Homo sapiens: one gene and its partners. The protein of the gene in region 1 purifies or fractionates together with the protein of each later gene. This does not show direct contact. Each region holds a gene or a part of one and is shown in the gene's direction. Other genes may lie near its edges.

What was found.
Region 2: the proteins of MET (region 1) and LRIG1 purify together in Homo sapiens (affinity purification with western blotting; 2 studies listed by BioGRID and IntAct, with this or other methods). This does not show direct contact.
Region 3: the proteins of MET (region 1) and S100A8 purify together in Homo sapiens (affinity purification with mass spectrometry; 2 studies listed by BioGRID and IntAct, with this or other methods). This does not show direct contact.
Region 4: the proteins of MET (region 1) and TMPRSS4 purify together in Homo sapiens (affinity purification with mass spectrometry; 2 studies listed by BioGRID). This does not show direct contact.

The regions. Positions count from the first base shown.
Region 1 is NC_000007.14:116,674,511-116,682,741, forward strand, and holds part of MET (hepatocyte growth factor receptor isoform b preproprotein), read left to right. Parts: intron 1-8,231. UniProt on the Homo sapiens protein: Receptor tyrosine kinase that transduces signals from the extracellular matrix into the cytoplasm by binding to hepatocyte growth factor/HGF ligand. Regulates many physiological processes including proliferation, scattering, morphogenesis and survival.
Region 2 is NC_000003.12:66,497,637-66,506,024, reverse strand, and holds the start of LRIG1 (leucine-rich repeats and immunoglobulin-like domains protein 1 isoform 1 precursor), read left to right. Parts: upstream 1-5,002; 5' UTR 5,003-5,617; coding exon 5,618-5,835; intron 5,836-5,970; exon of another isoform or gene 5,971-6,142; intron 6,143-8,388. UniProt on the Homo sapiens protein: Acts as a feedback negative regulator of signaling by receptor tyrosine kinases, through a mechanism that involves enhancement of receptor ubiquitination and accelerated intracellular degradation.
Region 3 is NC_000001.11:153,388,934-153,395,572, reverse strand, and holds S100A8 (protein S100-A8), read left to right. Parts: upstream 1-4,532; intron 4,533-4,596; exon of another isoform or gene 4,597-4,716; intron 4,717-4,998; coding exon of another isoform or gene 4,999-5,037; coding exon 5,038-5,178; intron 5,179-5,329; coding exon 5,330-5,470; 3' UTR 5,471-5,541; downstream 5,542-6,639. UniProt on the Homo sapiens protein: S100A8 is a calcium- and zinc-binding protein which plays a prominent role in the regulation of inflammatory processes and immune response. It can induce neutrophil chemotaxis and adhesion.
Region 4 is NC_000011.10:118,078,847-118,087,077, forward strand, and holds part of TMPRSS4 (transmembrane protease serine 4), read left to right. Parts: intron 1-7,904; coding exon of another isoform or gene 7,905-7,911; exon of another isoform or gene 7,912-8,117; intron 8,118-8,231. UniProt on the Homo sapiens protein: Plasma membrane-anchored serine protease that directly induces processing of pro-uPA/PLAU into the active form through proteolytic activity.

The DNA.
Region 1 (8,231 bases):
AGTAGCATTAGTCATATTATCCTTCTGCAGATCTACATAATAGTCTCAAATTAACTTTTTCTCAAATGTGGTCATCTCAAAACAACGTGAATAACTCAGAGGAGCTAACATCCTCTAACTGGCTTATTTTCTCCAAGTGGCTGCACCAAAGACATGGCAACACCCCCATGGTGAGCACAGTTCCTCACACATTCAGATTACCTCCCATTTCTCTGTCCTCTTCCTCCTCAACCCTTTCCCTTGGTTTGGTCAGAGCTGCTTTCAAGGCCTTCCGTGCCCCCATTTCTCCAGCCCAGTTTGCTCGTTTCTTCTTTAGGCATTAGGCTTAGTGATTCTCGCCAGAGCCATCTACGCTTTCTTTTCCGTGGTCTAAATCCCTAAGATTTCCTTGGTCTGCTGTGTTTATTCATAGGATACTCAATTTCCTCATTGTGCCCTCTTAAGGGGAGAAAATGTATGTAGAAACTCAAGTGTCCGGAAGTGAGCCTTCTTTTCCTGGCTGGTGTATGCTGAAACTAGTGTTTTTGACACCAAGCCCTTAGGGCAGAGTTTCTTCATGGGTTTTGCTCAGTGCAAAATAAATAGTCACTTCTCAGTAATAAATGATAGATACACTGACTAATGTTAGTTCAGAATCACTTTGATGATGTGTTCTCAACTGACACTGAGTTGCTGCTAGATCCACATTTGCCTGACCAAAAATAGCTAGGACCTATAGGTAGAGTATCATATGTGCTAGGTACTACAGCATTTTCTTTAAAAGAAAGAAATGGAATCTGCCCTTGAGAAGTTTATGATCTAGATACACAGACAAATATCACATATTAAATGAACACAAATTCATAATTATTAAGAGGACATCACATGAGAAACGCTTTCAAAATCATCCTATTTGCTATGAAATAATAGAATTTTTTTTTAAAAATCAAAGTTTGGAACTTAAAAACCTTAACATTTTCAAGCTGTTTCTGCATACATCACCTTTCTGATACCAAAACGACCTTACAAGATAGGCAAGTCTGATAACATCTTAACATTCTTATGTTATAGACAAGGAAACTGAGCTTGAGACTAGCTCCATGCTATTTCAATAGCACCATACCACCTTTCCTCAGCCATCAACTATTGGAAACATTTTCCATGGAGGCATCATTAGGGATGCTTAAGATAGTGGTAAATGATGAATATAACATATCTAGTCCCTGGAGTTTTTGTCACCTTCTCTTTCTCCAGTTCTCTCTCTCTTTTTTTTTTTTAATTTCTTTTCTTTTCTTTTTTTCTTTTCTTTGTAGTGAGACATACCGAGAAAAGGTTTCATTCATATGTGTGGGGCATTCTGCTCCTGTTATCAGATTAAGAGCCGTGAATAATTTTGTAATCTATCCTTCTATCAGAAAGCCCATTCTCAGATATCTTTTCAGCTGTGTTAAACAGGTTAGTATATTCCGCTTGGGATTTGTTTCAATAAAAACATCCAGTAAAATCTGACTACTTTGCTTTTCATGGGACAAAATGAAAAAAGTGCTTTTATAAGCTGTAAAACTTAATTGAGAGAAAAAATCACGTGTGGCATTTGTAGCAGGAGGTATGAGCTCAGTGAAATAAAAAAGTTAACTTTGTAATCACATACCCAGGTACACATATTTCTCTCTGTGATTGCATAAATGTGTGCAAGTATGTTTATGTAGGTTACTCCCATTGATTTTAATTTCTATAATAAATTATGTAGCTATAGGGCCCACAGGCGATTATATAATGGGCAATAGAATTTGAAAATGTATCTCTCCTAATATAATTAAGGATAGCAATTATGAAATGTGCTTAGAGAATCACAAGTTATCGTGAAAGCCAGGTTCCTGTACTCCAAGAATGTGAATGAGGATTTAGTCATTCATTCAGGACAATTTTTTGACAACCTACGAGGCATAGTTCTAAAATCTGGCATTTCCACAGAGTATAAAACAGATGAAAACCTCTAACCTCATGACACTCTGTTCTATTGAGTTGGCAAACAATAAAGAAATACATAACTGAAATGTGTTGTATGTCAGGTGATGATAATAGCTTCAAGGTAGAATAAAATGGAAAAGAGAATAGTGACTGTCAAGGATAAGAGAGAGTGGGATGGTGATTGAAAAACTCAATAGTGAGGTCAGGGAAGGCTTGTCTTCAAAGGTGGGCTTTGGGCTAGAATCTGAAGGAGATAAGGAAGTGAGCCAGGCGCATATGAGGAGCACTTCTCAGGAGTGCTATTCTCATCTTGTTTTTCCTGAAATTGTGCAGTTCACAGCTTGCACAACTGTCCATAGACTCCCTGATTTTGGAGGGAGATACCTGAATAGTGCCCCTGTTTTTGTAGGGAAATACCTGGACAGTGCCTGCCATCATTAGCTACCATGTTAAAGATGAAGATACAGGAGTGGCCCACATCTCTTGGTTTATGAGACATGGAAGAAGAAGACCCAGAGTGTTGTTTTGTTTTTTTTTTTGTTTTTTTGTTTTGTTTTGTTTTGTTTTGTTTTGCATCCGCCTGGTCCCATCCCATACTCCATCCTCTATCAGAGATATTGCTCCATTCAGACAATTTTCCTTCTTATTTTCCACACTGTGAGCCTGTCACAGTGGGATTTGTTGAGAAGGATACCCATGGCTTTTTTCACTGATCCCTTCCATAGTATAAATCTAAAGACAGCAAGAGGCAGTTGCTGATGGTGTGCAGCTTCTGTCTGCTATGCACTTCTTTCTTTCCCCCTCGCTCTCCTTCCTTTTCCTTTCCAGTATTAAGTCACTGCATTGGATTTTCTTCCTCTTTTCTTCCTTTTCCCTTATTCCCCTATTTATATCCTGTATCAAGATTTGCAAACAGGTAACTTAAATGAGGAAAACTAACCATTTCACTAGGGATTGACAAACTGCTTAGGAAAAGCAGAGGGGCAGTCACTGCTTGGCGTGATTAGAGCTGTTGTGAGGCTCAGTGTATGGCATGGGCCCATGTGGTAGTATCTTTCAGATTTTCAAGAGAAGCTAGGACTCTCCCAATTTTAAAATGTTGACTCAGTGTCTTTAAAACACCATACAGCTTACAGTGGCAGAAAGTCTGCAAGCCAGATTGGGCTCCTGATGGTCCCAATTGCAGCAGCATGCATGGCCCGAGAGCCCCAGGACTGCTTCTACAAAATATTTTATTTTCTAAAATTCTCAGAAAATTAACTAAACAAATTTTTTAAAACCAATATTTTATGTCAGTTCCTATTGGCACGTGGTTATTTTTCTAAACTCATCAGCCCACATACTTTACATCAAACTATGTACGTTTCTAAACTAAAGGGTAATCTAGTTATTTCATTCTTAAACTGAAGTAGTAGTTTTCTGAAACCTGAATCCATCATGGCTTTATGCATCAATTTCATTTCCAAGTTCTCTGATTCAGGATAAACTCCCCCTTTGGAATATTGTCTTTCTCTCTCTCTCTCTCTGTCTCTCTCTCTCTCTGTCTCTGTCTCTGGAAATGACTGAACTTCACCCGTTGTTATTACCCTGCCATTGAAATTCAAAACATGCACTGCCCTCCTGGTTTCCAGTGCCCTTTAAAAGCAATCAGATCAGTGTTAAAATCTATTTTTCCAAAGGAATAAAAGCTCACAGGTTGTGCACTAATTTGTTTCCTTTAATCCTAAAATCTCAGTGAAATGCCCAAGCTAGCAGCCCTCCAGAAGGCCACTGTGTTAGAAAGGGAGATTATGTACTGTATTTCTTCCTACTATTTTAAATGCAAATATAATAATATATCATGAAACAGTGCACATACAGTATACATATTAAGATCAGTGGTCTATTCCTGTTTTGAAATGGTCTCCTACTCCTTAATAGTTGGAATTCTGAGGCAGCACCTAGACTCTCAGGTCCAATTTGAAAATGTATGTTTTTTTTTAAAAAAGAATGACTTGGGGAATAACTGTTTGATAAGACCGTGGAAGATTTCTAATTTTTAATATTTTATTAAAAATGTAAAGAAAGACATTCAAAGCTGAGACCTTTGAAATAATATGGTCTTTGCAAGTCAGAGAAAAAGAGAAGTGGTAAATTTATTAGAGATAGGTTGCCTCCTTTGAGGCCTAATCATGTGGGAAAGGAAAACCCAGCCAAGGTTTGGGTCCATAAGACAATTCAACCTAGCTTTAAAAATAGGTTTTGGCTTTGCTTGGGACCAGCATTGGGACCAGAGTGTATCTAGACCAGCATTTTAGCTATTAAATTTTAAACCTAGGGGTCTTTTAAGGGAAATTTAATCCATGTGTCTTTGATTCACTAAATCTTAAATCATTACTCACAAACTGTATGTCCCTCTAAGCTCTTTGATGTCCAAGAGATCTCTAAAATTGTGTAAGGCCTTTTTGTTCCAGAAAAAAATAGGAAGTTGGTTTTTGCTAAGCGTCAATAAACAGCATCCTCAAAAATCTGATTAGGTCTAAAATCTTGCAACCATGACAGTATGGATGTTTGAATGATGCAATGTGAAAATTTTAAGCACTTTTTAAAGTCCTTGTTTACCAGTAATACTCAGTTGTAATCCTTACTAACCCCAAGGAAATTATTTTGACACATTTCCTCTCTGTTTTGTAATATAAATACAAAGCCCAAATATTCATCATTTTATTCTGGCACATAGTAGGTACTCAGTAAGTATTTTGTAGAGTGTTGAATGACTCTTTCTTCTGCCCAGAAACTTCTAGCTAATGTCAGTTCTTCTATTCAATATTGATATCCATCTGTCATACCTTGGAATAAGATCTATTCTAAGTCAGTGACCTTGTTCGACAAATTTTTAAAATAAGCCATCTAACTAAATATATGACATTTATTGAAATTCATTTTGCACCATGAAGCAACTGCCTTGCAAAGAGTGCTGAAAATAGGAAGGAATTTCTAGACTAATTTGATTAAATATTCAGTTGTTGCCATATGCTTTCTGAAAATTGATTTTCCCCCTTTTACTATTCCTGTCATCCTTCCTCCCACCTTGACATGCTTACTGATTGAAAGCTATGCACAGAAAAAGGGCAGGTCGCTTGTATGTATAAGCAAGAGCAGCAAGTCCAAACAGGCTTAGAAAACGTAATGCTATAATCACGAGTTGTCATAATATAGGAGAGGGGAGAGAGGAATACTCAGCAATAAGAGTGGTGTTGGGTATTGCTCCAAATTACATGGATGACACATCTTTGAACTCTATTGTGTCGGGGGAAAACACCTTCTTGCTGTAGTTAGATTTCCTGTTTGTGAATGTGTATTTTCTGGTAACCAGACTTCCTATATGAATTTGACATAGCTTTAAGTGCATTTCAAATGACATGATTAAAGAATGGCTGCTTTGGAGACAGCAGCTCCTTCTCTCTTAAAGAAATAAACTATCATGCTAAAATATAGGCATTGAGATCTTTCTTGATACCATATTGTGAATTTCTAATGGCTCATCACATTTTTATCCTCAGAAAACCTTTCCTGGTGAAAAGCATGCTGTTTTAGTATCACATTTGGGGTGATGGAATTGGCAATTTCTTATATCTTGAGGGGGCGGGGGGGTAAAAGGAAAATTGTGTTAATAGGGTCTTAAAATAGAGATTCTCTTAGGTTAACCTGAAGATTTACTAAATACATTATCATTACAGCTTGTTTTGACATTTAATTGTAGATGGCACTGTATCAGCACTGACTTATTTATACAGCTTTGTTTAGACATGCCTAATTTTTATTTCATTGGTGGAACCAAACCATCAGTAATAAATCATATATCAGTGTTTTTGTACACATTCGTATTTACATGACTTTTAAAATTCCAATGTAAAGGTCTCACAACTTGAAAAATGAATGAATGCCTGAGTATTTGAACAGTTGGGAAAATGTAGTTCAATTTAAGAAAGATTTTTTATGACAATTCTTATGCCATATATAGAAAATAGATAATAAAGGAGAAGGCCTGGAGGTTTAGATGGGATATTGGATCAATGAGCAAAGGAAGGGGAAAGGTGGGCGGGATATGCTGAAGGGTCATGGGCTTGAGTGCACCCTAAGTCATAAAGAGGGTGTCCCATTAAGAATCAGGCTGCCTGAATTCTAAGTAGGAAAGAGGCAGGTCAAAATGGTGTATAGGCCAGGCACAGTGGCTCACGCTTGTAATCCCAGCACTTTAGGAGGCCAAGGTGGGTGGATGGCTTGAGCTCAGGAGTTTGAGACCAGCCTGGGCAACATAGCAAAACCCCCCTCTTAAAAAAATTACAAAAAGTAGCTGGACATGGTGGCGCACACTTGCAGTCCCAGCTACTCAGGAGGCTGAGGTGGGAGGATCACCTGAGCCTGGGAGGCCAAGGCTGTAGTGAGCCGAGATCATACCACTGCACTCCAGCATGGGTGACAAAGAGAGACCCTGTCTCAGAAAAAGTGGGGGAGGGAGGGTATGGAATAAAGTAAAGCTCATGGGAAAATGGTACCTTTACCATTTTCCCACCTTGGGAAATGGTGGGAAAATTTAGACATTGCTTTACAAAGTCTAAATTTCTGCCAACTTGTGTTACATGTGGTTTGATTCTGGAGAAAGATAGACTATCATCTATCCAGTCCTAAATTGGGCCTCTTAGTCTGTCCTCCCCTCAGTTACCAGGAAGAATAGCAGGAATATGTCACAGAAGCAGAGAAAGCTTTTATTCTGAGTGTCAGAGGCATGTTCTAAGCACTCTGTTATCTACTCCCAGGCACTCTAAATGAAATTCCATTTTCTCTGAGGAAATCAAAATATAAAAAGAAAACTCAGGCAAATTTATAAAGGTTTTACACCATTTTCATGACTGAAATATTCTAGCATATCTAGCTCATTATAATCTATAAATTCCTGTTGGGACCAAAAGTTATGGCCCTAAAACCTGTTATCTGTAATCCTTTTCCACTGGGATATTGTCTCTGGGGATATATATTAGCTTTCCTTGAGGATACTACCTTGAAACCATTTCTTTGGTCCTTGACTATACAAAGTTCATACTAGCATGGATGTAGGAATTGTATTTTTCTATTCTAAATACGAATTTAGACAGTGATATAAAGATTCAAGGAAAGCTTCTATCAAGGCCTGCCTTCACTACTTGTCTTTTGGCTCCTCTGAGGGTCTTAGGTGAGCCACTTTCATCTGATTCTGCCCTCACTTCAGGCAGAATTCATATGGCTCCAGCCAATGGCTACACTGTCCAAAGTGAGACTGTGGTCTCACAACCATCTGGTTAATACAAAGACAGCAAGCCAATATGATCACTTAGGACCTAGGCAAACCTTTGGGCTTAAAATATTACCTTAGCTATTGTTGTTTTTAATGAGTATCAAATAGTATGATATTTGTAATTTGTATTATGTAAAGAAGTAACCAAAGCAGAGATTGTTGACAAAAAAAAAAACTTCCTCCTAACATAAATGAATATGCATTTTGGACTTTTCAAAAATTCCCTTTCTGTCTTGTCAAAATTAAGATATTTCTAAATTTTATTTCGGTCTCACTAACACATACTTGGATTATTGTTCATTGAAATCTGTACGTCAAGGCCCAGTGATTTTAAACATTCTTTTGGTCTTCAAAGAACTTACCAAAAAAAAATTGTTCTTTAAATCACCAGAAAAGTGCAGATAAAATCCCAGACAGTTTCATTAATGACAATGAAAGGTGACAGCCCTTGAATCTATGTCATAAGTTGATTAATTACTTTCCAAACATTATTAAAGATATTAGACGAATAACTTAGACTGGTATCCAGGATCAAGGTTCCTTCATAATCCCTAAATGGGTTTTAATTTTCAGAGTTAGATGATCATTATATGTGATTTATTTCTTTAACATCTTTAGACTGTTGGCTTTATTGAAAAGAGAGGAGAGTATCTGTTTCAATGTGTTTTCTTTTCCCTGAAGTTATTCCTTGCAGAATTCAATAAAACCGGTTTTGAAATAAAAATAATTAAATGCTGGCATTTTCTGTTAATAAGGGCCCATAGACCTGATGAATTATATAAACATTACAAGGAATTTACCACTGAGTTCATAATTATGTAACCATTTAATGCCCAAACCTGCCTACTGACAGTGAAGACGTTCAATGAGAATGGACATTGTGCATTAGGATAAGGATGACCTGGAGTGAACTTTCATTCTTGTTTTGGTTCTTTCCCATTTTGCCCAATTCATAGCACCTGATTCT
Region 2 (8,388 bases), on another chromosome or scaffold:
CCTGACTTCAAGTGATCCACCCATCTTGGCCTTTCAAAGTGCTGGGATTACAGGAATTGAGCCACCGTGCCCAGCCCAAAATAGATCTTTGGTGTCCACAGAACTGGTTTGGAATCTTGGCCCTGTCACTTATTAGCTTGTGTGGCCTTAAACGTTTTTCTTAGCTCCTACCTCACTGAAAAAAGTACATAAAGCACTCAACAACATGAAAGACATATAAAAAGTGCTCCGTAAATGATAGCTGTTGTTATGATGTGACAGTGCTTTGAAAAATGTAAGGTATATGACTTCATAAGATTATTATTATGTTATGATCAATGTGCTGTTCTTTATATACATTGCAGTGTTAGTTCTGAGTGGTTGGCAGTGAGGCATAAACTTTGAATCCTCCCTGCACTCGCCCTCATGTACTTCTCGGAGTGACATTTGCAAAGGCAGCAGATTGGGAGTGAGAGGTGCGGTCTCTGGTGATGATGTAATTAGTCCATCCCATCATCATCACCGTCAGAGGTAAGGGACTGCCTCCTACAATGACCATTACTCCAGAATCTCAATCTCAGAATTATGAAATGCTCATACCTTTGACATATTTTTTTTCATCCTTTCAGTGAACCAGTAAACATTTCACATTCACAAGGCAAGGACAAGTGTCAAGGTTCTAGTTTGTGTTAGAAAGTGGACTCTAAAGGTTTTTGGCCCCTGTCGATGGTGCTCTGTGGAGGAGGGCAGATCCTGTGAAGGGTCACAGCTGAGCTGCAGGCAACAACCATTCTTGCTGTGGAACTGCAGCAGCTGCAGCTTGGCACTGTCTGGGCATTAACCAATATTCCAATAGCCAGAGATTGCACAAGAAAACTACCTCCACCAAAGGCAAATGTTGGAATGGGGGATGGGGAGATCTCAAAATCTTTCTCTTTTTATATTCTATTCCCAGACTCATTAGCCTCCTCTCTTACCTTCTCCACCCATCCATCTCCTTGACAAGATTATTGCGACGAAGGAGTTAATGAGTACACAGTTTTATTTTCCTTGGAAGAGAGATAGAAAACAGGCTCAAAGCAGGGCTGTCATCACCCTGCAAGTCTTCAGGGGTTTCATAGCTAATTATTAACCCTTTGTCACATTCCTGGACAAGAAACTTTCCTGCTGAAACAACCTGCTAAGATTTTCCATCTACATTATACATATGGGCTCTCAGTTTTTCAGAGTTAACAAATCAATAACACCTTGAAAACAATGAGATGTAAACAGTTTATAATGCCCCTTTGGTCCTTTATCAAAATGATCCTTCTTTACTCACTCAGCACCCAGGTCAAGTACCATTATCCTTGTTTTCTATTTTTCTTTTATATATATATTTTTTTTGAGATGGAGTTTTGCTCTTGTCACCCAGGCTGGAGTGCAATGGTGCGATCTCGACTCACTGCAACCTCCGCCTCCCGGGTTCAAGCGATTCTCCTGCCTTAGCCTCCCAAGTAGCTGGGACTATAGGTGTGTGCCACCATACCCGGCTAATTTTTGTATTTTTAGTAGAGATGAGGTTTCACCATGTTGGCCAGGCTGGTCTTGAACTCCTGATCTCAGGTGATCCCCCCACCTCGGCCTCCCAAAGTGCTGGGATCACAGGCGTGAGCCACCGTGCCCAGCCCCTTGTTTTCTATTTGAGAAAACTGAGGCTCCAAGACAGAAAATGACTGGTCAAAGGTTTCACCCATAACAAGGCCTGGCTGGAACCCAGCTCTCCTGAATGGTGACCTGGTGCTTTTTTAATGTATTGAACACAGTGTAAAATCTCACCTAACATTAAGAAAGCCCCTCTGAATCTCAGCATTCTTTAAAACCACTAAAGACCACCACCTAGAACTATAGCAAACTGGCACAAATTCAGTCCCCAGGAAGTTGTGTTAAAAAAAAAAATTCCTATGGTTAACCTTCTTTCTTGTTATTTTGTTATTTGCTTCTCTCCCCAATAGATTTCAGGCTATTTAGATTTTGGGTTCCTCTCTCAAGCATGATTAACTTAGGATGATTAACTGCTAGGGCTTCTGGAGTCAAGAGAGACCTGCAGAGATTCTCACTGGGGTTTGATTCCATGCTATCCCTGGGGTAGATGAAAATGAACTGGAAAATCTAAAATCCCCGGATGACTCATTTAAGGAATAAGCATTTAGAAAGATCAAAGTTGCAGTGTGAGGAAAATAAGGACCTACAGCACCCAAATCAACTGTTGCTCTGTGCTGAATGGACCAAGACTTGCACTTTTATGAGCAGAGACATAGATTCCCTTAGACATTTGCTGTTGTTGTTGTTGAGATCTCCTTCATCTTAGGTGGTGGCTGCAGATGAATTCCCCCCTGAGCTGGATATCACTGCTCTCCAAGTTCACACTCTCATTGCAATCACAAGCAGGTTGCTAGTATGTGGGCAAACTTCCATACATGGTATGGGGAGCAGACATGACTTCATGCTTTGCTGTAGACGAGAGGAACTGCCAAGGCTTAGGCGCCCTGTCCCCCCAAGTGTGCCCCGGCTTTGGAATCCTTTTCTCTGGCTGCATGGTAACCAGACCACAAGGGATGCTTTAGATTTGTGGGCACTCCCTCACCTTGCAGATTCTTAAATTCTATCCTCCAGAAAACTAAGATTCCAAAAAGGCATCTCACAAGTACACCCATACACATTTGAAAAAACATTTTACAAGAATTACCCACTTTTATAGTACTAGAAATGAGACAAACCTGAAAGATAATTTTAGGTCAGCATCTCAAGTAGTTCAATCAGTTCAATTCATTTTTTGCTGCATATGCTGTTTTATTGTGGGGTGGGGACAGGGAGGATCTGACAGTTTCATTTCAGGAAACGGCTGTGGGTATTCTGCATCAAATTACTGTTTTGTGTTCTTTGTGTAAAACTTAAACACTGACTGAGAGGACTTCATAAATTTAGGGTCTTTTTAATTCCATTCCCACTGCTTATTATTATTATATTTACCAAAAGGGATAGAACAAAAGGACATATTTCTTCTCGTCCAGATGGAAGGTGTATGTTTATTTGGATTACATATGAAACATAAAAGCTGGTTAAAGCTCTGGGTGGGATGGGTCAGGTGCAGCATTTTTCTGATAATATTTCTTGGGAATTAGATTTGAATTGATTTACCCACATATTTGAGCACTGCTTTGGGCATCACTGCTGAGATCATGCAAAATTAAACAAGAAAAAAATGAGGCGCAATGAATTCAGAAGGGGAAGAAGGAAAAAGGGGAGGAAGGGATAGGAAGATCACATTTTGGCTAAAGAAAAGAGGTGATCTTATGGCTGAGGGAAAGTTTAACACATTTAGTGCATCTCAATTAAAGCAAACCTCTTAGATTGTGTCGAAAATGGAATAAACCCTTTAATTTTTTTTTTTTTTTTGCCTTTTTTCCCTAAGGTTCAACTTCTCCTCTTTACCTCCCACCCCACCCCACTTCCATAAAACACAACTCAGATTTAATGTTCTGGAGCAAATGTTTTTCAACAGACTTGACCTGCTTAATCTTCCTGACAATGTGCGCAGTTATGTTAGTAATTTGCATACTCTTGGGAAGGGATATGAGACACTAGCAAACCAAAACGCCCAGAGGGCAGCTATATGTTACAGTGGTAATCTTTTTCTTTTTTTCTCAATGTGTGTATGTCTGCTTAATGTTACCACGTACTATCGTAACACACTACTACTATGGTCTGATCTTTAAGAGCAAAAGTTAGAAGCTTTGTTAACTATTATTTCTCCTTTAACTCTGTCTCTTACGAATACACAATGGCTTCTTGAAAATTATCTTAAAAAGACTCTGATTAAAACAAAAACCCAATGACAACAACAAAGCAACCCCTTTATCAAAGGCTGCAGCATTTCTAGAAGTACCCTTCAACTCACTAGCTGGGAAGGAGAGTGCACTTTTTTTTTTTTTTGAGACGGAGTTTCGCTCTGTCACCCAGGCTGGAATTCAGTGACAATTCAGTGACAAGTCTCTGCTCATTGCAGCCTCCGCCTCCGGGGTTCAAGCAGCTCTCCTGTCCCAGCCTCCCGTAGCTGGTATTACAGGTGTGCACCACCACACCTGGCTAATTTTTTTATTTTTCATTTTTAGTACAGACGGGGTTTTACCATGTTGGCCAGGCTGGTCTCGAATTCCTGACCTCAGGTGATCCGCCCGCCTTGGCCTGCCAAACTGCTGGGATTACAGGCGTGAGCCACCACTCCTGGCCGAGGGTGCACCTTTGAGACTAGGTTTCTGCAGCACACATTCATTTTAGTAATCAAGGACATATTGCTGGATTTAGGACGTGAAGAACAAGTCAGGAGCAGATGCTCCAGGCTGCTCGAGGAGGAAGGGGACCACGCCTAATGAAATAACCAAGGATGTCCCAGTCAGGAAGAAATGTGTTAAGTTTTAAACCTGTGTCTTCGCTTTTGGAAGGAACCTGGAAAACGGACGCGGGTTTGCTTCTAATCTGCAGTCCTGCTTGCAGCCTGAGGAGGACGTAAAAAGCCTTGGGGCCAGACAGCCCCAAAACGGGGGCGTTTTACCCTCTTAACTTTCTCTCCCCTTCTTGACGCAGAGGGCGTATCTTCACGCCTCCTTTCCCCAGCCCGCGTTCCCGTTCTCCAACAACAACCTGCGTGTCTCCTTTAAGAGGCGGGGGCCGTCCCTCCCTTTCTCCTCCCAGTCTCCCGCCCTTCACACCTTGGGTGGGAAAAGAGTGTGGGGGCGGGGTAGCCGGTGAAGCGGGAGGGGCGGGATCACAGCGAGCGCTCCAATGGCCCTCGAGGCTGGCCACGGTGGACTCCGGCAGCCAATGAGCAGCAGGCGGGGAGGCGTGGCGGGGCGCTGTTGCAAAGCATCCAACGTGGGCCAGCAGGCGGCCGCGGAGCGCGGAGCCTAGGGGGTGTGTGCGGGCGAGCGGCCGGGGGCGGGGCTTGGGGGACCGGCCGGGGCTGGGCCGCGGGGAGGCGAACAGCAAGCGGCTGATTGTTCGGCTGCGAGGTCGGCGGGACTCTTGCTGCGCGGAGGAGCCGTGCGGAACCCGAGGCTGCGCGCGCGCGCGCGCTCTCTGGCCGCGGCGTGGGGACAGCGAGGCGCACTGGGGCCTCCCAGCGCGGGGCCGGCCGCGCCGTCCAGCCCGAGGTCTACGGCTTTGCGCTCCGAGCCCAGAGGAAGATGCCTGCCGGCACCGAGCTCGGGCTGCGGGGCTGAACGCCTGTCTTCCAGGCGCAGCGGCAGCACTGCCCTCGGCCGGTGTCGGTAGCGGCACTCGGCGTGCCCCGGGCGGACGAAGAGCGCAGGCTGGGTACACCTTGCCCGAATCGGCGGAGTTCGCAGCTAGCGCGGGCGGGCCGGCCGGCCCGGATGGGCGCGGGGTTTGCGGCCCCCGCCGGGTGCTCCGGAGCGGCCCGGGCACCGGGGGCACGCTGAGTGCCGGAGCCGCGGCCGCAGAGAGAACTTGGGGCGGGGGCCATGCCCCGGTGCGGAGTCTAGAGCCGAGCGGAGCGCCCCGCGGGCCCGCCCGCGTCTGCGGCCGTTCGGGTCCTCACAGTCCCCGCGCCCGGAGTTCGCAGCGCGCTCCAGACAAGATGGCGCGGCCGGTCCGGGGAGGGCTCGGGGCCCCGCGCCGCTCGCCTTGCCTTCTCCTTCTCTGGCTGCTTTTGCTTCGGCTGGAGCCGGTGACCGCCGCGGCCGGCCCGCGGGCGCCCTGCGCGGCCGCCTGCACTTGCGCTGGGGACTCGCTGGACTGCGGTGGGCGCGGGCTGGCTGCGTTGCCCGGGGACCTGCCCTCCTGGACGCGGAGCCTGTGAGTGCCGCCCTTTCCGCCCTCTCTGCGCCCCGGGGCTCTGTCACTTGGGGATGGAGCGGCGGGGGTTCGTACTCAGGGAGGGGGTGCGGACTGGGTTGTGTGTGTGGAGTTGTGCGTGCTTGTGCGTGTTGGAAGACTGTCAGGTTGGAGTGGCGGAAGGGAGATTCTGCGTGGAGGTCCGGGGGAGTAGGCGTGCGAGAGAGCCTGGAGAAGAAGAGCGTGCCTCGTGGGGTCTGGAGACGAGCGAGCGTGGGTCGTAGAGATTTGGGGGTTAGCCAGCACGCGTCGTGCGGGCCATCTGGGGGTGAGTGAGTGGGAGTCTGGAGCTGAGTGTGTTTGCGGGTGGGTGGGTGGGAAACGTCTGGAGAAGAGTGTGAAGAAGTCTGTGGGGGTATGTGGGTGCGTTTCCTTTTCCTCTCCTGTAATCCAACTATTTGGTGTCTGAGCTCCTTGGTCTTCCAGTGGGTAATGAATGAAGGTGACTGTTGGGTCCAGTCTTTCGTTTACATTATTTATTAGTTGATAGTGTGTGTAGCCGTCTCCTGATCCCCGAAGACCGTGGTGGCCTGACTTGCCTCTCTGTGCGGGGCAGAAGGCAGTCTTCCCCCGAGGACCCCTGAGTTAGAGGGCTTTGACAGTTCCTGGCGACCTGTGAGTGCTGGGAGTTTGTCCTTTTACGCCTGTTTGGCATTTTACGGAACTGTGTTCCAGACCCTTCCTGTGTGTTCCCTGGGGCCCCATTGGGCTTGATGATCCAGTGGGGTGGGGCCCACCCTCAAGACTCTCTCCTCCATAAATGGTGCAAATGAGTTTTGGAGAAGTGCTGCTTCAGGAGAGGGTGCCAGGGGCTTGGCTGATTTAAGCTGTTTGTTTCACCCGAAAGAGGTTCTTTTCTGTGCTGTCAGGATGTGGGCTTATTAGGACTTAGTGGGACACTTCTTACAGGAGATTTGACAGGAAAAAAAAGGCATTAGACTTCTGTGTAAACATGGTAGAATAGAATAGTCTTCTTTTACTTCTAACAAATCTGGTGCATGAGTCAAATCCCGTTCAGTTATGGGTAATTAGCATCTCTGTAGAACCATTAGTACCTTTCCAGAAAAGGCCTAGCTTAAATAGTCCGCATTTCGGTTGAATAATTGGACATTTTTCCTAGAACATAGGAAAGGCACAGCAGTAACCTTAGGCATGACTATGGCTGTTTTAAAAAGAGAAAACTGGTGTCACAAGTTGTAACCAGCACCTGTGGCTTGATCGAAGAAAATGTGGCCTGTGTTCTGACTACCGTGAAGGGAAGAAAAGTTAATTCCTTTTAAATGTAAAGATCCTGTACCTCTCAAAATGGGGCACGAATCTTTAACTTGGCCCGAGACACTGCTCCATGAACAAGTACTACAGAGTTCTGAAGACAACCAGGAACCCTTTAGTTACAGTTAGGTTTTCAATATCTACTTCTTCTGTGGAATTTACTGAGTTAGTGAAAATCAGTGGTCGTAGGGTGGAGGCAGAGCTTTTGTGAAGTACTGGGAGATAGAGCCCAGTATTGTCCTTAGGTAGTCTCTTATTTAGTCTGGGGTATTGTGATTTTTCCCTTACATACGGTAGTTTTTTTTTTTTTTTTTAAATAGAATCATGTGGGCAAAATCAGATTAACTTCTTAAGTGTTCACCTGTTGGAAGAGTGACTCCCAATGCCATGTGTCAGTGGCATTGTGGGGAAAGCACTTAGTTCCACAGAAGTAACTTCCCAGAGAGGGCAGGGTGTCCTCTTATTTGCACTTTCCTATGGTCACAAGATCCACTTTGCCTTGCCCTTTAATTTTTGGAGCAAAACATACTGGTTATTTCTTTAGGCTTTCTGTTGCCTAGGAGTGACATTTCACATGGCATAAATACCTTCAAAATTGAAGTCCTTCTCTTTTACTCACACATTTGATGATCGAGAAATACCAAAGTGGGTATTTTGAGCATCAGTAGACTTTAGTATACTGATTATGGTGTTGACTGATTCGATTTTAAGATATGAGCAGCATGATTTCTGGTTAGTATGTAGCAACACAGTATGCAGTGCAAAATGGCTATCCTTTGAAAAATATTTGTGAAGTTTTCTTATTTCTGATTAAGGACAAATCAAGCAAATGTGTTCTTTTTTTCTAGACTTCAGACTTCTGAATTTAAATCATTAGTCTCCGTGAGTCTTATTCTGGAATTTCCATAAGAGTATTTATATGGTTTGTATTCCTGGCTAAGATTCAGCAAGACTTTAGGGGAGAAAGTGTCTGTATATGATATAATGAAATATCTTGTAGTTTCACCAAGTTTACACGCTCTAAGCCCACGGTGTCTAGAAAATGCTTTGAGCTAGTTTATAAACCCATGAACTGGATTTACTGCAGCTAGTTCAAACAACTTCAGGCTGTGGGTTTGAGATAGCAGAGGACCTGTGGCTTTATGGGACCTTTTTTTTTTTTTTTTTTTTTTTTGTAAACAGTGCGTCTGATGTGGAAGTTGCTTCTAGGCCTGATATAAGAAAAATAAAACTTTTAAATAG
Region 3 (6,639 bases), on another chromosome or scaffold:
ACCTGCACAGCCTGGCTAGAGGCTGTGACGAGGAGGTAAACAGCTTCATGGGGACGGAAGGGAGGGAGGCGGCATCAGAAAAGGCAGAACATCAAGGTCCAGACCTGGGCGCAGACTGAGGGAGAGGAGGATCCAGAATGAGGTGGAGGTTTCAGGTGCTGGCGATTGGCATGGGACCTCGGTGCCTGGGTGGGAGCCAGTCTGCAGGGAATATTGTGTGCTGGGTTTGCACATGCTGAGTCAGACACTGACAGGAGCTGAGCCAACAATCCAGCCTGGCAGAACCACAGACACATGTTAAGGGAAGAGCAATGAGTAGAACCTGGGTGACAGTCAACCCAGGAAGGCTTCCTGAGGGAGAGAAGGGTTGGGTCTGTTTTTTTCTACAACATGATGATGGATGTGAGGGTTACTCCTGACCCAGGGCTATTCATGAACCACTGATCTGAGTCCTCCGGTATCCCTGACCCCACCCACCTGAGACCTGTCCCTGCCCTTGCTCTGTTTCTTTTTCCTTTTCCTCTCCCCTGGGACTCTAGGGATCTAATGCAGAATCCCTTAGGGAGGGTCTCCTCTGCCTTCAGGAAATGCCAGAGCCCACTTTAGAGGGTTGTCTTTTCTGAGGGTTGGTCTGGGAACCGGTGTCCTGAGCTTACTGAGATAGAAATCATGGATTTTGAAAGAGTGTTGGGGGGTGATATACCACCTGCGCACAGGACTGCAGGGTCACTTAAGAAACTTGGTCTGGTTCCCTCCCCACCTGGTCCTTTGCGCCAAACATGGTGGATTGTCCCTGGAGCTGAGCTGGAGACCTTGTTTCTCATCAGTCAGGCTCTGGGGCAGAATTTGCCCCTGCTGCTCCGGGCCTGGCCTGCTGTCCCTCCCACACTTGCCATCAGCTTAGTTTGCCTTTCAGGACCTAGCTGGGCCCTCCATTCCTTGGGAGATGTCTGCACCCCATTCCCCTTTGCATTCTTTCCTGTGGAAGGGCATCTTCTGCCACACTGTGCTTGTTTTGTACTCTCCGCCGAGACAGGACCTCAGTGTCCCCATAAACGCTCAGCAGGTGTTTGGGGAAGGAATGCAGAATTGGGGCCTGTGGGGCTGGAATTGATGACCTAGATCTGTGCTCCTTCCTGCAGGCCCCTGGCTGTGTCTAGAGGCATGAAGACCATCGCCTGAGTTACTTTGGCCACTCTTCTTGCAGGCCCAGGGGAGAAATACCTGTCTCACCTGAGAAGTGCTGGGCTCCACAGGCATTGAGTACGAAGCAGGGGCACCCAGCCTGAGCCCTCCCTGCCCTCTCCTGCCCCCTTCTGGGGGTTTCTTCACCAGCTCTGCCTGCTCTGTCCTCATTTCCTTGGCCTCAGGGATGGACCTGTCAGGTCTGTTGGGACACACCCAGGGACTGAGCCCTTTCCTGTAAACATGACCAGGTTCCGCTCCCTCTAGGTTGCCCCATGTCCGCTAGGCTGCTTACAGCCTCTGCCTTTCCCCAGATGTGCTTACCCAAGTCCTGATACCTTTTGCTGCAAGGTCAGTTCAGCCTGGCTCCTGCTGTCCCCAAAGCACCCAAGGCTGTCCAGGGGCGCAGTTTCTGGGGAGGGGGCGACATTTCACGATCTTGCTGGTCAGCCTGTACATGATGTGGGAAGGAGGTCACCACTCAGGACTCCCTCACTGGACCAGGGGAAGGACCTGAAGTAATGCCCTGTGCCTCAGTTTCCCCATCTGTCAAATAGGGATAATTATACTTGTAATGTCCACATCACTAGGTTGCTGGGAATATCAAATGAGTCAGTGGATGCAAAATACTTTGAAAATATGATATGGTGCTTTGAGGCAGGTGCTGTTATGCTGGTCACATAGGATAGTACGTGGTGAATAATAGGTATTAACCAAGGGTGGATCCTTGGTTGAAAACTTGTCATGTCAGAAATGGCGTTGTTTTCCTAGATGGAGCTTGATTCATCTTTTGTCAAGGAAGTCAGACTGCATTTGTTTGATGAATTTATACCCTGCCTTCTTCCAGAAATGATTTAAGATGGCTGATTGTGATAAAGAGAATTTCTGCCTTGGATAAGGGAAGGGTCAAACTTAATTTTGTATTCATTTATCCCTCAATAAGTATTAATTGAACATGTAGTAGCTGCCAGGCCCTAGGGTTGTGAAAAGAAATGTGATTTCTTTTCTAAATGGTCTCCTGGTCCCAAAGAAAAGACAGACAATAAACAAGTGAATCATAACATAGCAGGGCAAATGCTGTGATGGGTAAGGATTTGGGTAGCATGGAGGAGAGAAGAACTAATTCTGCCTTGATGGGGTGAGGGCAGGTGGATCAGGGATGGACTTGGAGCAGATGATGCCTGAGCTGGATCAGGAATGGTGAGGAGGACATTACAGGGACAAAAGGCATTACAGGCAGGAATAGGAAGTGGATGCTGTCACATCACATCATGAGTCACTCAATCATTTGATACGCTGAATTACTATGTCTCTCTGTGGGGCTTAGTTTCCTCATCTGTACAATGGGCATTATAATAGTACATACGTCATTGGATTAGTGTGAGAATTAAATGATCAATGCAAATAAAGCAGCACTTAGAATAGTTCCCGGACATGGGAAAAGCTCAGTGAGTGTGAACTAGTATTTTGTCATGATTTGCTCTGATCAGTGATTGTGGCTGCTGTTATTGTGTGTGCTGGGCACTGTGCTGGGTCCCCAATGGCTCACATCCAGAGAGAGCTGGATTTATTTTGGAGGGTGAAAGACTCCCTGCTATGTTTATGCAATGGCTCATGCCCTTGTGCAATGCAGAGGGACCCCAAGCAGCCTCCATCTCCCAGGGCACGGTGGATCCCCAGCTTCACAGAACAGGAGAGCTGTGGAGGAGTGTGGGCAGCAGGGTAGGAATGGATTTAGCCCTCGGCAACAACACATGTCCCCACAAAACATTTTCTTCATCCATTCATGTGTTGAGGGACACTTGGGTTGCTTCCACCTTTTGGCTCTTGTAAATAATGCTGCTATGAACATGAATGTACAAACATCTGTTTGAATCCCTGCATTCAATTCTTTTGCATATATACCCAGGAGCAGAATGATGGATCATATGGTAATTCTGTGTTTATTTATTTGAGGAACAAACTTGCCGTTTTCCATAACAGCTGCACTATTTTACATTCCCACTAACAGTGCATTAGGCTTCCAATTCTCTATGCCCTCACCAACACTTGTTTTCTGGGTTTTAAAAGAAGTAGTAGTCATCCTTGTAGGTGTCAGGTGGTATCTCATTGTCGTTTTGCTTCATGTTTTCCTAAAGATTAGTAATTTTCATATGCTTATTGACCATTTGTATATCTTCTTCGGAGAAGTGTCTATTTGAGTCTTTTCCCCAATTTTTGATTGGTTTGTTTGTTTTTTGTTGTTGAGTTGTAGGGATTCTTTTATATTCTGGATATTAATCCCTTATCAGATATTTGTTTTACAAATATTTTCTTTGTAACAACAGAAACACACCACAGTCTTCAAGGTTGGAAGCCAGTTAATCTGAGTAGCATTTTGTTAGTGGTGGGGAGAGGATTTGTTCCTCCTGAAATCCTGGGGAATTGGCCACCTCCTCTTCTCCTCTTAGGCATGAAGCGCGTCTGGCTTCTCCAAAGAACTCTTCCCCTCCACTACCTCAGAGTTAGCTTCCTCTCTTCAGCCAGTGATCCTGGGGTCCCAGACACAATAATTAACCAAGAGAGGGTGAAAGGCTCCCTGCTGTGTTTATGCAATGGCTCAGGCCCTTGTGAAGTGCCGAGGGACCCCAAGCAGCCTCCATCTCCCAGGGCATGGTCCATCCCCAGCTTCACAGAACAGGAAAGCTGTGGAGGAGTGTGGGCAGCAGGGTAGGAATGGATATAGCCCTTGGCAACAACACATTTCCCCACAAAGCACCCACCCAAAAGAACAACAACGATAGTTTTAGTTTTTAGTAATGAGAACAATAGTTCTCATGACTAAAAGCCATCAGCCAGGACACGTGTTCTCAACCCTTTTGCGGTCTTTGGACCCTTTGAAACTCTGACAGAAGCCATGGAGGAATGTTCTCACTGAGTGCATGCACTCAAAATGATGCATTCAACTTCAATTCAGTTTCAGGGATGTATGGCCTGACCACCAATGCAGGGGATTAGCAATCGCAATAGTGGAGAGGGCATGGGAGTGGGAATCTGGCTGGATCAAGCAAGTGGATGCCAGCAGCCCAGAAAAAGAGCCCCCCTACCTGCTTTTTCCTTCTGGGCACTATTGCCCAGCAAATGCCTTCCTCTTTCCGCTTCTCCTACCTCCCCACCCAAAATTTTCATTCTGCACAGTGATTGCCACATTCACCTGGTTGAGAAACCAGAGACTGTAGCAACTCTGGCAGGGAGAAGCTGTCTCTGATGGCCTGAAGCTGTGGGCAGCTGGCCAAGCCTAACCGCTATAAAAAGGAGCTGCCTCTCAGCCCTGCATGTCTCTTGTCAGCTGTCTTTCAGAAGACCTGGTAAGTGGGACTGTCTGGGTTGGCCCCGCACTTTGGGCTTCTCTTGGGGAGGGTCAGGGAAGTGGAGCAGCCTTCCTGAGAGAGGAGAGAGAAAGCTCAGGGAGGTCTGGAGCAAAGATACTCCTGGAGGTGGGGAGTGAGGCAGGGATAAGGAAGGAGAGTATCCTCCAGCACCTTCCAGTGGGTAAGGGCACATTGTCTCCTAGGCTGGACTTTTCTTGAGCAGAGGGTGGGGTGGTAAGGAAAGTCTACGGGCCCCGTGTGTGTGCACATGTCTCTGTGTGAATGGACCCTTCCCCTTCCCACACGTGTATCCCTATCATCCCACCCTTCCCACCAGAGCCATAGCCATCTGCTGGTTTGGTTATTTGGAGAGTGCAGGCCAGGACAAGGCCATCGCTTGGGGCATGAATCCTCTGCGTACTGCCCTGGCCAGATGCAAATTCCCTGCCATGGGATTCCCCAGAAGGTTCTGTTTTTCAGGTGGGGCAAGTCCGTGGGCATCATGTTGACCGAGCTGGAGAAAGCCTTGAACTCTATCATCGACGTCTACCACAAGTACTCCCTGATAAAGGGGAATTTCCATGCCGTCTACAGGGATGACCTGAAGAAATTGCTAGAGACCGAGTGTCCTCAGTATATCAGGGTGAGGAGGGGCTGGGTGTGGCGGGGGCTCTCTGCCTGGTCCTGGGGCTGCCCTGGGCCAGCGGTCCTCCCTGCCACCCTTCATAGATGGCTATGCCTCGGCTCTCTCTGAGATCTTTAAACTCTGGCTTCTTCCTCCTCAATCTTGACAGAAAAAGGGTGCAGACGTCTGGTTCAAAGAGTTGGATATCAACACTGATGGTGCAGTTAACTTCCAGGAGTTCCTCATTCTGGTGATAAAGATGGGCGTGGCAGCCCACAAAAAAAGCCATGAAGAAAGCCACAAAGAGTAGCTGAGTTACTGGGCCCAGAGGCTGGGCCCCTGGACATGTACCTGCAGAATAATAAAGTCATCAATACCTCATGCCTCTCTCTTATGCTTTTGTGGAATGAGGTTCCTCGGTGTGGAGGGAGGGTTGGAAAACCCAAAGGAAGAAAAAGAAATCTATGTTATCCCACCCTACCTCTCACAAGCCTTTCCTGCTTTACCCCTCACCTGGCCTCTGCCCCACATTCCCTTCCAGCCCCTCCATCTTGAGCCATTGGATTTGAGGCTTAAGGATTCCAAAAAGTCCATGACACTATAGCTGATGATTTTACTAGTGGTTCTGAAATGGGTCGGGGATTTGGGAACAGGGTGGTAGTATAAGAACAACTGATACTGTTCTCTAAGCTAAATTTTAGCTTCCAGCTAAATGTCTTAGATGTGGCTCTTGGGAAATTAGAGTGATAGCTACATAGAAGTGTGTGGGTGTGTGTGTGTGTGTCTGTGTGTGTGTGTGTGAGAGAGAGACAGACAGAAAGAGAGCAAGAGAGGGAAGGGGGGAGAGGCTGATTGTGTGTGTGGTGTGATGTAGGTGGACAATGTTCAGAGTCCTCCATTAACAGGATAATCCTCACACCTGTCCACATACCTGTAGTTTGTCCTTGGGGATTTTGAAAATTTTTCCTCCCTCTCCACTCCCAAACTCCCAACTCAATTAAATGATAAAGGAATAGGCAAATAGGAAAATAAATTAGTAAAACTTAAGTCAAAGAATAGGTTATTCATACGCTGCCCTATGGGATTCTATGCTTTGGTGATCAGAAAATTATCTAAAAAATACTTCCCAAGGGCTGGTACAAGGGGAAGGCCAGAAGACGAGTGGTTCTTCTCTGAGGTGGACATTAAAAAAAGAAGAAAATGAAGGGGAACCTTTTGACAAGAATGTCACCCCAAACTGGATTTTCATGCTGTGGTGTGGGGAATTTTCTGTTGTCCTCACTTAGGTGCTGGGGCAGTGGTGTTAGTGATGGGTAAAAAGGTAGGAAGCTGTCACCAGAATCACTAAACCAGGGTTCTTAACTTGTCTGTCTATACATCTCTGAAATTGGGTTGAAGTTGTGTGCATCATTTTGAGTGACGCACTGAGAACATTCCTCCACGGCTTCCATCAGAGTCTCGAAAAGGCCCAACACCTCA
Region 4 (8,231 bases), on another chromosome or scaffold:
TATGACCCACAACAGCCCCACGCACATGCACCGGGTTCGCAGAGATTACACAGCTAATACATGTGAGTAGGTTCTGGAAACCATGAAGCCCCGCACAGATGTAAGGACTTAGGACTAAAGAGGAGTCTGTGCTAGGAAATGACAGCTGGGTAGTACACCCAACACAGACCCTTTGCCACCAGGGAAGGAGCTGGGCATTGCTGGAGGAGCGGGGGAGGGCAGGTGGGAACACTGGTGGAGGGGTCAGGTCAGGCCTGGGGCCCCAAAGGCAAGGCAGCAGCATGGCCAATCTCCACGGTGTGGTCAAGGAAGTTTCTAGCCCCGGAGCTAGCCATTATACTGCCTGTGCTGAATAACCCTGTCATTAAGCCTGTGCTTAATAACCCTTGACAGCCATAGCTCCCAGCCCTGAGGGGAGGATGGGATCTCCACACCCAGGCTCAGCCCTCCCTTCCCTTCCCTTCCATTCCCTACCTCCTTCCATCCCCACAGGCCCCTTTCTGTGACAGTCAGGGTCCTTTGAGCTGCTGCGTCTTAATGACAGCTCTCCCAAGAACCCATTAAGCTGGGTATTCCTAGGGAGAGCTGGAGCAGGGACTCAGGCCCAGGCAGAGGTCAGAGCCCAAGCCCTGTCCCCGAAGGAAATGTGTCCCATGCTAACTACTCCATAGCTGAGGCCTGGAGGGAAGTCAGGGACCCTGGGACTGGTTATCCTGGCCTTGACTCATTACTGTTCCGGAGACCTAAACGCACCCTGAGCCACCAGACGTGGGTGTTAACACCTGAGGTCAACCCCCTGACGCTTCCGGCTGCTCTGGAGGAAGCTGGTCCTCCCTCCCACCTCCTGTTTTCCGTGCCAGCCTGGTACAGAGTCAAGGGGCTTGGCTGGGCTTGGCTGGGCTCAGAAACGTGGCAGTCAGGAGCCAGCCTGCGGGCAGCGGGGTGCTGGGAGCACTGCAGGGTCCACCCTGACTGGGGCACAGAATCCAGAAGCCCACTCGGCCCTGGCAGTGCCATCCTAGGCTCTGAGGTGGTAAACTGAGCTGGGCAGTGGGAAGGTCCTAAAGGGCAAGACAGGCAAGGAGGGGCTGCTTGCTTTGCCTGCTCTCCTGGATCCTTTGCCACCTGGGTGACAGGGCCTGGTGTCACTGTAACCACTCCCCCCCCACCAAAAGAAGCTCCAGCCAGACACCATTTAATCAGCCCCTTTCATTGGCCAGCCTCTAAATGGGGCTGGGGATTGGGAGGACCCAATACCTAGGTTTCACCCTGCAGGTGCTCAACACAGAGTGTGACAAGTATAACACCAGCAGTGGTTACAAGGTACCCCTGGAGCTGAAAAAGCAATAGATTCTCTCTAGGGAAGTCGGGAAATTGTCCTGGAAGAGAAACTATTTGCATTGGACTCTGAAGGATGGGCAGGCTCTCTCCAGGCAGGGAAAGCAGGAAGGAGCTCCAGACACAGGGGACTGCATGTGTGAACAGCAAGAAAGAGTGGTAGTATAGGGACAACAGGCTCTCGCTGTGGCTGGAGCAAAGACTCCGGCACTCCAGGTCATGGGAGCTGCACCTGCCGAGGTGGAAGCTGCATCCCCAGGCCCTGTCCATCTCCCAGGGCGCTTCCAGCCTGACCCTGGGGGTCAAGCTCTGTGCCTGGGTGCTTCCCTGGAGAAGGGGTTCAGATGTCAGGGCTCCTGCGTGACCCCAGGCCTCTCTCCTCCTCTCAGTCTTCCCTCAGTGCAGCTGAGAACCCAGCAGCCACCTCCCTAGCCCAGACCCATGCCAAAGCCCAAGAGATCTGAGGAGCTGAATGTAAGAAATGAGGAGAGACCAGCTCAAGGGGGTCATGGGTAGAGGGAGAGATGAGAAAAACAGACCCAAAACAGAGCTGGGGAACTGCCGACAAGCTTCCCAAAGCCCCAGAAACGCCCCAGGGCAGCAGGAGACAAATGCTTTCAGGCCTGAAAATCTCCACGGCCTCAGACTTCCCAGGTGCCTCTTCTGCCCTCAGTCTTCCTTCCTGCTCAGGTGAAAACATCAGCCTCAGTAAAACGCTTCAAGTTCCCAAGCAAGGATTCCCTGGGACAGTGAACTCCTCCAAACCTAAAGTGCAATCATCTACCACATTTTCTTTTAAACCTGTTGCCACCAGAATGGGAGCTTCTTGAGGACAGGGTCTGTGTCTTTTCTGCTTTTAGCCGCAAACCTAGCACAGGGCATGGCATCCATGGCATGGACTAGGCACTTAGTAAATGTGAATGAATGAATGAGTGGATTGATGGATGACAGGTAAATAATCAAAGACAGAATCCCCTATAACCAATTTCTGATTTATCTGACACTGAAAACAAGGCTCACCCGAAGTCCAATTGGAAAACATACCAGATCTATCTGAGGGGTTACTAAAGTGTTTTTATCCCAGAGGGGGATGGGCATGAGGGAGGCACAGGTCTGAGCCTGCCCGGAAACCCTGGTGATAGGGAAGGGGAAGAGTGGGGCAGAGCCAATGTGGCAATCCCCCTGTGACACGTCTAACGCCACCTCCCAGCCTGCCACTCTGACTAACCAGCACGTCGGCAGCTGAGAAATGTGTAAACAAGATGGAAAACCGCAACAGTCCTCCCCTGCCCGTGGCCCCCAGAGCACCCTCCAGCTTCCTCGCATAATCCACGTGCAACCAGAAACTCTCGAAGGGTAGCAGATGAAAGGAACACTTGAGGAAGAGGGTGAGAGACATGATGGCCCCTGTCCAGGCGTGCGCACCTGTCCAGGGGTGGCAGTCGCGTCTCCTGTCACAAAATGTCCTGCACATCAGTCTGGCTGGGCGTCGCCCGCTGGTGCGGTTGAGCCAACCAATGCTTTCAGCATATCCTGCTGTCTCAGTTTCTTCCTCTAAATCTGTATGCATTCATTCATTCATTCATTCAGCATGTGTTCCCTGAGCATCTACTATGTGCTAGGTACTGGCAAGATACCATGGAAGATTCAGAGAATATGTAAAATCTAGGCCTTCAGTTTTGTGCACTCCATAGATGGAACAGGAGCAGGGGAGACTGCTTTCCCACACTCCAGACAAAGCCTGACACTCACTCACTCACTGATGTCCACAAGAAGGGGCTAAACATAGAGCCAAGGTCAGCCCCCTCACCTTCATCCCATCTCCACCCTGACATCACTCACGATCACATCTCCAGTCTCCAGAGAGGAGGGTCTTGCCAGGCTGCTGGGAGAACCTGTCCGGACACGTAGGAGTCACTGGTGGTCTTAAAGAGAATAATAGCTACAGCGGCAGTATCACATCTCTATCCAAATGCAACAAGGGCCCCATGTTGTGCTTTGAGAAGCACTTTCACATCCAAAATCTCCCTTCAGTCTAATACAACTCTCTGAGACATTGTAATCCTCATTCTACAGATGAAGAAATTGAGGCTCAGCCGGGTGTGGTGGCTCATGCCTGTAATCCCAGCACTTTGGGAGGCCTAGGTGGGCGGATCACCTGAGGTCAGAAGTTCAAGACCAGCCTGGCCAACATGGTGAAACCCCATCTCTACTAAAGATATAAACATTAGCCGAGCGCAGTAGCTCACGCCTGTAATCCCAGCGACTCGGGAAGCTGAGGCATGAGAATCGCTTGAACCCAGGAGGCAGAGGTTGCAGTAAGCCGAGATCACACCACTGCACTCCAGCCTGGGCAATAGAGTGAGACTCGGTCTCAAAAAAAAAGAAAGAAAGAAAGAAATTGAGGCTCAAAGAGGTTCATGACTTGAAAAGGGTCATTCAGCCAAGGGCAAAGGGAAAACCAGTAGCTATAATTAACTTAGACTTTCAAGAAGACTAAACTAAAGTTTCATACCCAATGCTGCTCAGGGAAAAAAAAACCCAAATTACCAGGAGACCATTAACGATAGAAAATTGATTTAAAGAGAGAATATTATAAGTGGATCAGGCCTAGGACTAATCCTATCTGTGGGAGGAGACAAGAGAAATTTCAGGCTGAGAGTGAGCTCTTCAGAATCACAGACCCTAAGGAAAAACCTTAGAGGTCTTCTCGGCGAGTGGGTTCCCCAAGCGTACTTTGACCTCAGAGCCTTTAGCTCCACTGAAATCAAATGCAGAATCCTCGTATGGGACACAGAGAGAAAAACAGAGCTGCAGTGTTTGAAAGGACTGTCCCCCACCCCCGCCACTTCTGCCCTGCCTCCCTCTCCTCTGCTGCGCCGCTGCGGGGCTCGGTCGAATCCCCCAGGGGTGCTCAGAGCCCTTATCTGACCCTGGCCCTCGTCTGCCACAGAAACCTTCACAATCCAGCTTTTGCTCACACATCTGTTTCTAGAAGCTACGGTTGCTGAAAACAATCTTTCCTTTGCCAGGAGAAAAGACTTTCTGTAACTTCCCCCGTTCCTCCTAGAACTGTCTTTTGCCTTTCTCAGACGGCCACACACACTTGAAGCTTTCATGCTTCCACTGGTCCTTGCTTCTCTGAACTGCGTGTTCCACCCTCTCTTCCGAGAGAGTTCACACAGGTCACACGACATCACCTCCGGTCCCAACTGCCCTGGTCACTGTCCCCAGATGCGCTTAGTCCACAGAGTCCCCTGCTGAAGCCAAGCCCCGGGGCCCATGAAATCATAAAAGTCGCTCTTTGCTCAGTTCCTATTACATACATGACAGGCCCTCTATGAAGCTCCTTCCCATTAACAATAAATAATTTTTGACTATGAGTATCTACTATGTCATGAACTTCCCAAGTTCTATTTTAATATTGTTATTAATAACTAATAAAAATAATAGAATATACTCCATGGGCAAAAGAGCTTTACCTCTGGTTCACTGCTAGGTCTCCAGGGCCCAGAAAGTTGCCTTACTAAATGAGTAAACTATTATTGTTGTTGTTATTATTATTACAGTTAACAATTACTGTACTCTTGGCTGGGTGCAGTGGCTCACACCTGTAATCCCGCTTTGGGAGGCCGAAAAGGGCAGATCACATGAGGTCAGGAGTTCAAGACCAGCCTGGCCAACATGGTGAAAGTACAAAAAATTAGCTGGGCGGTGGTGGCAGACGCCTGTAATCCCAGCTACTCTGGAGGCTGAGCCAGGAGAATCGCTTTTACCTGGGAGGTGGTGGTTGCAGTGAGCCGAGACAGCGCCACTGCACTCCAGCCTGGGCAACAGAGCGAGACTCCATCTCAAAAACAAAACAAAAAAACAATTATCGTACTCTTACCGTGCACCAGGCAATGTACTATATGCTATGCATATCTGGGGCTCCTTAGGAGGGAGACTTACTGCATCTCTCTTTCTCTCTCTCCCTCTTTTTCACACACACATGAAACTGAGTTTCTTGGTGGTTCAATAACTTGCTAAAGCCTCAGGCCAATGAGCAAACAGGATTCAGACCTAGGCTGCAGGATTCCACGGCCTGTGCTCTGTGCACTGTAAAACACAACCTCTCCTAGCAAATGTAATTTCAGCAAGGAAAAACTTCATGAAGCACTCGACGAGTTATGTGAGTGGGCAGGAAAGCAGTAAAGGAACTTCAGGTTATGCAACTGCAAAGTCAGAGAGGCAGAGAAGACACTGAAGCACTATTAAAGCACTATTTATAGGATCCTGAGCTCAGAGTTCACAGGAAACAGATCTAGGAGTCACTGAAACCTGTGCCAGGAGATTGGCTGCAGCAGCCACACCAGCCCAGCAAGGCTGGTTATCACTGGGGCCTCCAGAACAAACGAGAATCCTCAACCCTGCCCCTGTACAGAACCACAGCACAGACCCTCCTTGAACATGTGTGGAGTTCTGCTCTCCATGCCTGTAGGGTAATTGGGGCAGAGAGCACTAATTTTCACTTACTAAACTCCTCTATGTTTCAAGCACCAAGCCAGGCACATCACATGTGTCATCAATAATTCTCACCAACAACCCTGTGAATTAAGTCATATTCTCCCCATTTTACAGATGAGAAAACTGAGACTCAGAAAAATTTATTAACTTGCTCAAGACTTCATGGCTGGGAAGAGGCAGAGCTGGATTCAGGCCAGTGTCCCTGCCTCAGAGTTCAGGAGGAGCAGGATCAAGGGACAACCCCCTTCTGATCAAGGCAGCTGAGACCCCTCAAACTGCAAAGACCAACCTAGGGGACTATGAGCAAGTCTGTAAAATCATGCAAAGACCAGATGGGGCTCCTGGGGGCTTGCAAAGGTGCTGAAAATGTGCACGGTGCTGAGCAGGTGGCGCACCTTACAGAATCTTTCTCCCCATCATCTTGTGAAGTCGCTTTTATTGTACCCACATTCCAAAGAAGGAAACTGGGTCCAGGAGCTGTTTAGTGACTTGCTCAAAAGTTGTTCTACAGATGGAGGAGTCAGATCTTCTTCTTCTTTTTTTTTTTTTTTGAGACAGAGTCTAACACTGTTGCCCTGGCTGGAGTACAGTGGCAGGATCTTGGCTCACTGCAACCTCCGCCTCCCAGGTTCAAGCGATTCTCCTGCCTCAGCCTCCCGAGTAGCTGGGATTACAGGCACCTGCCACCACGCCCAGCTAATTTTTTGTATTTTTAGTAGAGATGGGGTTTCACTATGTTGGCCAGGCTGGTCTCAAACTCCTGGCTGGAGTCAGTCCCAATCAGTTCCTTTTCCCTCCCTGCCATTTCCCTCCCTCTTAAAGTTTAAAGGACAACTCAGGACAAGCAAAAGTGAGTACGATTCTTGAAAGATGGTATAAACTCTGTCTTTGAACCTTTTTAAATTAACGTCAGACTGCTCCATGGATGGCAGGTCCTCAGTTCAGGTAAATTGCAAGGTTGAGAGAACCCCTCTAAGCTTTAAAATCCATCAGCCCTTCCCAATGGCAAACCCATGAGGGTCCCTGCCAGGCTGAAAGGCTGAACTGTGTGGCGGGACCCCTTCTGGCCCTCTCGAGTCCCCTCCAGCCATTGTCCAGGCATTGTCCTCAGGTGTGCAAAGATGGTGGCACCTTCCTTCCTATCAGACCCTTCCAGGAGGGGAAGGTGGGCTCAGATGGACCCACCACTCTGGAACAGAGGGAAAGCTGAGCAAAGTAGAGCTGTTGAGAGTTCAGAAAGGTGGGAGAGAATGGGCTGCTTCCCCTAGGACAAAGAGAAGGATCGCAGAGGGATTCCTAAGCACTGCAGTAAACAGCAGCATCACCTGGAAGCAGGGCCCTCCAGTGGGAACCAGGTCTGTCTTCAGTTTAATTTAGCCCAAGGGGCATGTACAAATACCTCACTCCTGCCCTTCACATTGTCTCTGGGGAAAAAGCATAAGCGCTGTGCCTCAGTTTCTCCATTTGTGAAATAGGAATAGTTACATCTTCCCTGCCTCCCCAGCCCTATCTGAACCTAAGAGCTATGCCCGAACACAAAAGCTGATTCTTAAATGATGGGAGCTGAACAGCAGGCTGGCAGGGGATAATGGCAGGCTGCCTGACTCCTCCCTTCTGCCCCAGGCCCTGCCCTGGAGCCATTATGTGCTGAGATGGGGGATGAGGTGCTCGGCTCAAATTGCCAATAGGTCAGCACCTATGTGGTTTAGAACAAGGCAAAATGGTTTCTAATGTAGCAGCCAAGGCTGAGGTTAGACCCAAAGGAAAAAGTGCTGCTCTAATAATGACTCAACGCAAGGCAGTGTTTGTGAGGATGCTCCCTGAATTTCTGCGTGAGAGCTTAGATGCCCAGCGGCATATGGCCTGGGCTGGTGGCCGACCTGCCTAGAGACAGAGTAACAGGTGCGATCCCAGGATACTTGGAAGTCGGCATGATCAGTCATCTCTGAGGACCTCCCATGCACTCTGGGCTGCTGCATCACCACCAGGCTCATCTCAGGAAACTCACTCCCTCCTCTCCTGCCCCATGATCTTCCAGCCCTCAGTGACCCTCTCCTTACCTGTCATGGCTGAGACATCCAAGAGAGAGAGCCCTGTTGCCAGCGCAGCAAAGGCATCAAACTGCCTATTCCAGCTGCAAGTGGAGAGGACACAGCTGCTTGCCGTTGGTTTTGGGGAGGGATGCAGGTTCTGGGGTCAGAGAGCAGAGTGAGGCTCCCTCAGAGGAGCACTGTGGCCGGGCCCCACTCTGCAAGCTGACGGCAAGCACCTCTGGGTCTCTTGGCTTACCCGAAGAACTTTCCCCACCCCCTCCCTTGGGTTTTCCCCACTGCTTATTACTGGCCTCAGCAACCTAACTGCCACCTGCCCAAGCCTCAAAGGACCTG